Linked DNA regions of Homo sapiens. The protein of the gene in region 1 purifies or fractionates together with the protein of each later gene. This does not show direct contact. Each region holds a gene or a part of one and is shown in the gene's direction. Other genes may lie near its edges.

Evidence for each region.
Region 2: the proteins of DNAJC24 (region 1) and NUP88 purify together in Homo sapiens (affinity purification with mass spectrometry; one large-scale study listed by BioGRID and IntAct). This does not show direct contact.

Annotation. Positions count from the first base shown.
Region 1 is NC_000011.10:31,414,784-31,418,620, forward strand, and holds part of DNAJC24 (dnaJ homolog subfamily C member 24), read left to right. Parts: intron 1-27; coding exon 28-166; intron 167-3,837. UniProt on the Homo sapiens protein: Stimulates the ATPase activity of several Hsp70-type chaperones. This ability is enhanced by iron-binding. The iron-bound form is redox-active and can function as electron carrier.
Region 2 is NC_000017.11:5,384,174-5,386,675, reverse strand, and holds the end of NUP88 (nuclear pore complex protein Nup88), read left to right. Parts: intron 1-335; exon of another isoform or gene 336-406; coding exon 407-470; 3' UTR 471-1,843; downstream 1,844-2,502. UniProt on the Homo sapiens protein: Component of nuclear pore complex.

The DNA of each region.
Region 1 (3,837 bases):
CCCTGCACCCTTCTTTTTGATTGGCAGTATCATCCAGATAAACAAAGTACAGATGTACCAGCAGGAACAGTGGAGGAATGTGTACAGAAGTTCATCGAAATTGATCAAGCATGGAAAATTCTAGGAAATGAAGAGACAAAAAGAGAGTATGACCTGCAGCGGTGTGGTAGGTGCTTGTGTTGAGGAGCCACAGCACATCGGCAACTCTTAGAAGCACACTCTGCAGCCATTCCTGGGGAGCATTTTCCAGCATTTGCACCAAGTGTTATTGTTGCCTTTATTCCTCCCCTCCATCACTGTTTTTAATTATGCCCTATTCTTAGCAGTGACTATTGTGTATCCATTGAGAAGTTAACAAAACTACTAGGATGTGGCTTCTTGTGAAGCCTTGAAAGCTACTTTTTATAACATTTGAAAAATGTTTAATTACACATTACTAACTAATATGCTTTATATGTTTAAAAACTTTTTATTAAAATAAATATGGATTAACATTTTAATTGTACTTTTAAGACTATACAGTATAAATGACAATCCAAATGAAGATACTATATATCAGATGACATCATAAAGCACTCTGCTGTCTTTGAGCTCATTTTAGGCTGGGTTTCATGATTATCTTCATGATAAACTATTCCTTGTGATTGGTATAAATGATATTTTAGGAATGCACATTACCTAAGCAATTTTAAAAGTCATTTCTTTTATGCTTTTTAGAAAATAGCTTTTTAAAACAGTGACAAGCTGTTATGAGAAAGAAAGAGGGAAATGTAGGTCAGGTTTGTCACACATGGACTGCAGTTACACGAAGTGATAGGCTGTCTTTCAGCACTGGCCTAGGGACAGGAGTCCCTCAGCCTTGTGTTTGAACCTTCAATATGCACCCCACATGCTAATGGGAGGAGTCAATAATCAGTTACAGCCTGTGGGGAAAACACTCAGTCGCTCTCTCCAATAGCATATCAGGCTCAGCATTGACTGGGATGTGTTGATAAAAGCTGTCTCGTAGTCGCTTATTGAATCCCCTCCCATGCCCTACAATGGCACACCATCAGACCTCACAAAATGATTCTGAGGCTTTGTTAGTACTAAGGTTATGAAAATTTGATTTGAGAAGCAAGCCTTTATTTTTAAAACACAGCATTATAAGATGAAGCCAGTGACATTTGCAAGACATCCCTATTTATTTTCAGAGGGATTTCTACCAAGAAAATTAAGGTTTCTTATAGGCTGTGTGATACTTCTGTGTGGAAAGACTTGAACTGTTTATGTACTGGAGTATTTGTTTATAAGAGTGACTTATTTATAGTACTAATCAGCTCAAAGGCTTTACTACTTTTTAAAAGACTGATGAGCTTATTTTTTTCTTAAATATTAAGAACCTGATGGGTGTACCTTTGCTTTTCAAAGCAAAGGTTAATTTTCAAAAATGGCTTGAATATTGGGTTCTGCTTTTGCTGGGTGCATAATGAGCATCTGTCTAATGTATTTATTTTTTAAACATGTTTGTACTTTTTGCAAAAGAATGTAGAAGTGGCTTCGTTTGATGATAAGTTCTACCCGTTGGTGTATCTTTTTAACCTTGGTTCACATGATTTCTATGAAAGAATTGAAACTAATGCACATGAATGTGTTGTGTGTTAGAAGAAATCTACATTCCTAAAGCCACTACGCTCTACTGAAGATGATGATTCTTTCAGGTGTTTTTGCACATCTTTACTAGTCTCTACTATATAGGATGCCAGTTTGCTTGAGATAAAAATAATTCACACGACATTGTACCCTAAAGAGTATAGGGTATATACTTTCAATGTTGCTCTACATTTTTGCCACTCCACAGCCTGTGTACTATTAAGAACATATTAGTGAAGTTGACTAGAAGCCTGCTCTCTAAAGAGGTAGGGAGGGATCAGGAATCATAAAAATATTTTCTCAAGAAGCTACAGGGTGGGGTAGGCCAGAAACCAAAAGAAATAGGAAACCAGGTTAAAAGTTAGCAGAGAATTGCATGAAGAAAGATTTGAGAGATGTCAGAAGACAAATAATCATCATATTCATGCCTTTTTCATTGTCTTCGAAAGGTCCTTGGAACTGCGGATTTCTTTTGAGCTTTGAGTCCTACTTTTAAGATCTTAATGGAAGCACCTGTGGCCTACTGTGTCACAGGGTACTCCTGTAGGTCATAGATGAAGTCACAATGAAGTTTAGACAAAGTAAATACTGTGAGAGTTGGACCTGATTCATGATTCAGATAAATAGTTTGGAATTTATACAATATCAGTTTGCTCTGCAAGTTTTTCAGGCAGCATATTACTGAATTTAGCTGTTCTAGAAGGACAGCTTTTCATGACACTTTAGTACCTCAGATTTAAGTACTAAGTATTGCCTCTTTTACCAGAGGCTCCAAATACTGACACTACTTTGTTTCAATTTTAAATGGAGATTGACATACTGTTTAGGTAAGAAGAGTATCCAAATATAACTTGCTATTTTTAAGCCTTTCATACCAGAGCTATTTTTCAAAACTCTTACAATAAACCTACTTTCATATTGTTATTTCTTTTGAATACCGTTATTAATTTTTTCTTCTTGACTCAGCTTCAGTAAAATGGCTCCTCAAAAAAAGGAAATGAACTTGAACATCTCTAAAAGTGAGGATTTAGGTTTGCTAGAAGGAAAACCTTTGAGAGTAATAATTTGTTAAAGACCAGGATAGGTTACCGAGAGAGAGAGTTTGTTATAACCAGGTCAAAGCACTCTTTTTTTCTGGGTCACCCCCTGGGGACATGGAAATAGCTTTGTTATACAGAACTCTTTTTACATGTGGTGATAATTCATTGTAAACCTTTCTTTTCATAGGGGTGTGCTTTAAATATGTTTGTTTCCTGCCCACCATTAACTTGCAGTATAAAATAAAATTGAGCTCTCTAGTACTTGGGAAGGAGGTAGGAAATGCTTTATTGGCTGGTCTTGAATGCTTTCTCGTGTTTCATAGCTCCATGTTGGTGCTCTGTCTTAAGGAAAGCCTCATCAATATTGCCCACAGCCATATATTTATCTAAAAGATAATTTAAAGGGACACTTGACGTCCATATTTCTTTGCTTCTCAAAAGAAATGATCATATGTGTTCTTTCCAATAAAGAAAAAGTAATACTCCAGGGCAGATAACCCAAAGTATTGCATGTATGTTTTTTTCTCCTTCATTCCTACTTCTATATGCTTAGTTGACATTTTAGAGCAATGTTGGCCAGGCTGAAGAAAAGTAAATTTAAGAAAAGAATGAGTAATAATTAGTTCCCAGAGATTATACATTTCGAAAGCAATGTTAACTCTGAATTTAATCAATTAGTTCTAGTTGGCATATTAAACTTATTGTTTCTGAGGATGCCTCCAAAGGCTGCTTCCAGTGTTCCCCTGAAAGGCATGTAGTTTTTCAAGATTAGGCTTTGCATTTCAATTTTAAATGGAGATTGACCTACTGTTTAGGTAGCACTTTGGAAAACCCTTTCAGGATTTATAAAATGTTCACATGAATAATACCTGTTGAGTAGATTTTGTTGCCTTTATAAATCTTGTGGGGAGTTGTCCTTATATATTAAGCACATTAAAAACACATCAGAAGTATATCATAGGAAAATAACAGTTGTCATGATTCAATAGCTTTGTAATGTGAAAGTCACAGATCTCTGATGTCTTAGTGGCTCTATACAGTGACACAGCTTATGAGTTAAGTACTTCTCTGTGATCTGAAGAGTAGCAAACCTTGAAATACATTTAATCAGATTAAATAATGTTTAAAAGAATAGATTGTGTTTGGAATCCTTGCTGATACATTA
Region 2 (2,502 bases), on another chromosome or scaffold:
GAGATAGTTTTTCCTTTACAGTATGCCAGAATCAACCTGTCTTAATAGAAACCTGAATCTTGGTATTTGCATGTCAAGTAATTACTGGGATGAGAGCCACATGATACATAGGGACTTAAGAAATGACTATGGTGGGAGGATTGAAAGGGATGACCTTCTAGTAACATGATTTTGTTGTGTGGCCAAAGGTATTTTACAGTAATTATGTTCAAAAATATTTCCAGTACTTGCACCGTTTGCCACCTTAAATGAATAGTGAACACTATTGCTATCCACCTGAAACCTTCAGCTGTTAATTTTAGCAAAGCAGTTCTTAGATGTTTCAACATTACCAGTTTAAATTCTTAAGAATCCATATAAATGGTTTATTATAATTCCAAAAGTGAGTGACTTTACAATTTTACAGGGGTGAACATATAAGGGAAATGGTGAAGCAAATCAATGATATCCGCAATCATGTAAACTTCTGACACCACCAGGAGCTGACTCACACCTGAACTGAACACCATTGAAGGCTTAAACCCATATTGTAAAACAGGTAGAATTATCTAATTTATAAAAAGGTGTTTTGATGACCTTTGGTGTGGTTCATCTTTTTAAATATGTTGTTTTATAATAATTGAGTAAATGCTTTTATTTAAAATTTGGAATGTGCTTTATAACTCAAGCCTACAGTTGTGTTCAGCAAGGACTCAGGATTATTTCACACTGCACACTGCCAGAACCTCCCTGAACCCTATTGAGTTTTCTCCATATTTGAGCAAGTTAGTTATTCTTGTGAGCTGTGTTTTAAAGTAGCAGCACCAGAAACATGACTCTGAAGAGGGATAGAACCCTAGGATTCAAAGGAGAAGACCACACAGTGTACTTGGCAGCAGCTTTTTTAATTTGAACACTTTCTTCTTGAGGACACACCTTCAGTACAGTTAACAAATGGTTACACCTGAAATCTGCTGAGAGCAGAGCTCAAGATCCACAATTGCAAAGGCCACTGCTGGCTCACTTCCTCACAAGCTGTATTACCTTTCAGAGCTGAGTGAGGCTGTGCTCTACGTCCCAATACTTGTTACTGAGTGGACATGAGGTGCAAGTTTAGCACCTTAAAGGGAGAAAAAAATAGGTTAGTATGCAGAATGTGATTTTGTCCTCACTTCACCTTAAGTCATCTTTTTACACTTGCCAATGTGAGTTCTGAAAGGTACTACTATATCTGCTTAGAAATGGCTGAGTGACTGTCAATTAAAAGCCACATGATAAGGTAGGTTACAGGTAAGAGGTAAATCAGGTTAGACATGCATGAGAACATGTAGGCACAGACTGAATATAAGCACAGGAACACTCGTGAAACCCAACTGAGCTTTTCTTTTGCCTAGAAGGGCTAAATCCTGCCTTCTACATCAGTTCCCATTTATGCTGAAAACCCAGTTGAAAGAATTGTTTCCTACCTGGACAGTGACACAGTAGTTTGTTTCATACCAGAAACACATTGCTAAACAAAACTTAAGAGTCTCAGTTTGGGTTTTTCTACAATAAAGTGAATTCCAACAGTTGGCATTTGCCACAGTAGAGACCACTAACCATTCCCTAATTGTGATGATTTTATTACCCAGCACCATCTTCTGGAGAAAAATATCTGTAAGGTGCTCAGTCTCAGCAGAACACTTCACTGCAAGCTCTAGTTCAGTCAGTTCAGAAAGGCTGTGAATTGCCCACCCTGATTTACAGCACTAATTTTAATAATCTGAAGACAAATTCGCTTGGGGCTTATCCAAGGGACTAGTCTTAAACCTACGTAATTTAAATTGATTGCATTTTATAATTAATAAAATCCCCTGTAACTCAATAGTTATATGTTTCCTTTATCTAAACCATGTAGCACTCTTTATAAAGGGACTTTAAACCAATTAAAATAATGTTTCATGTGCGGCAAGCCTTTAGTACTATTTCCATAATTGGTATTTATTTTTAAATTCATAACCATGAATGCAAGACTACAATAATAACCCAAGAGATGAGGTATGTAGTACTTATCATTTGTCCTATGGAAGACAGAAGTACAGAAGATCTTTAGGGTAAGTCCATAGTGACCTCATTTATAACAAAGACAATTCACTTTAAGTTGATGGTGGCGTTATGTGAACAAAACAATCTACCTAGTTCACTAACTCCCAGAAGGCTCTTTCAGGTACCCTGCTGTTATGCAACCAGTCTCAAAAATGATTTGAAAACCATCTTACTTTTGAACCTCCTGGATGATGAATCCATCCACTGGATATTCCTGGGACAGTACTCTCAGCAGGTATTGATGAACATGAATCAATTCTTTGTGCTTTCTGTAGCACTTCATAAAGTTATGGCAAAGACCTGTTTCACTGAGGCTTTCTTCACACAGGAAAGGAATCTAATGCTTGTAAAATGACAAGACAGATTTCCAATTCTAACTAACTGGCTTTCCATAAGCATTGTCACTTACTTACATTCCAGGTCTGAATTCAAAAGAAA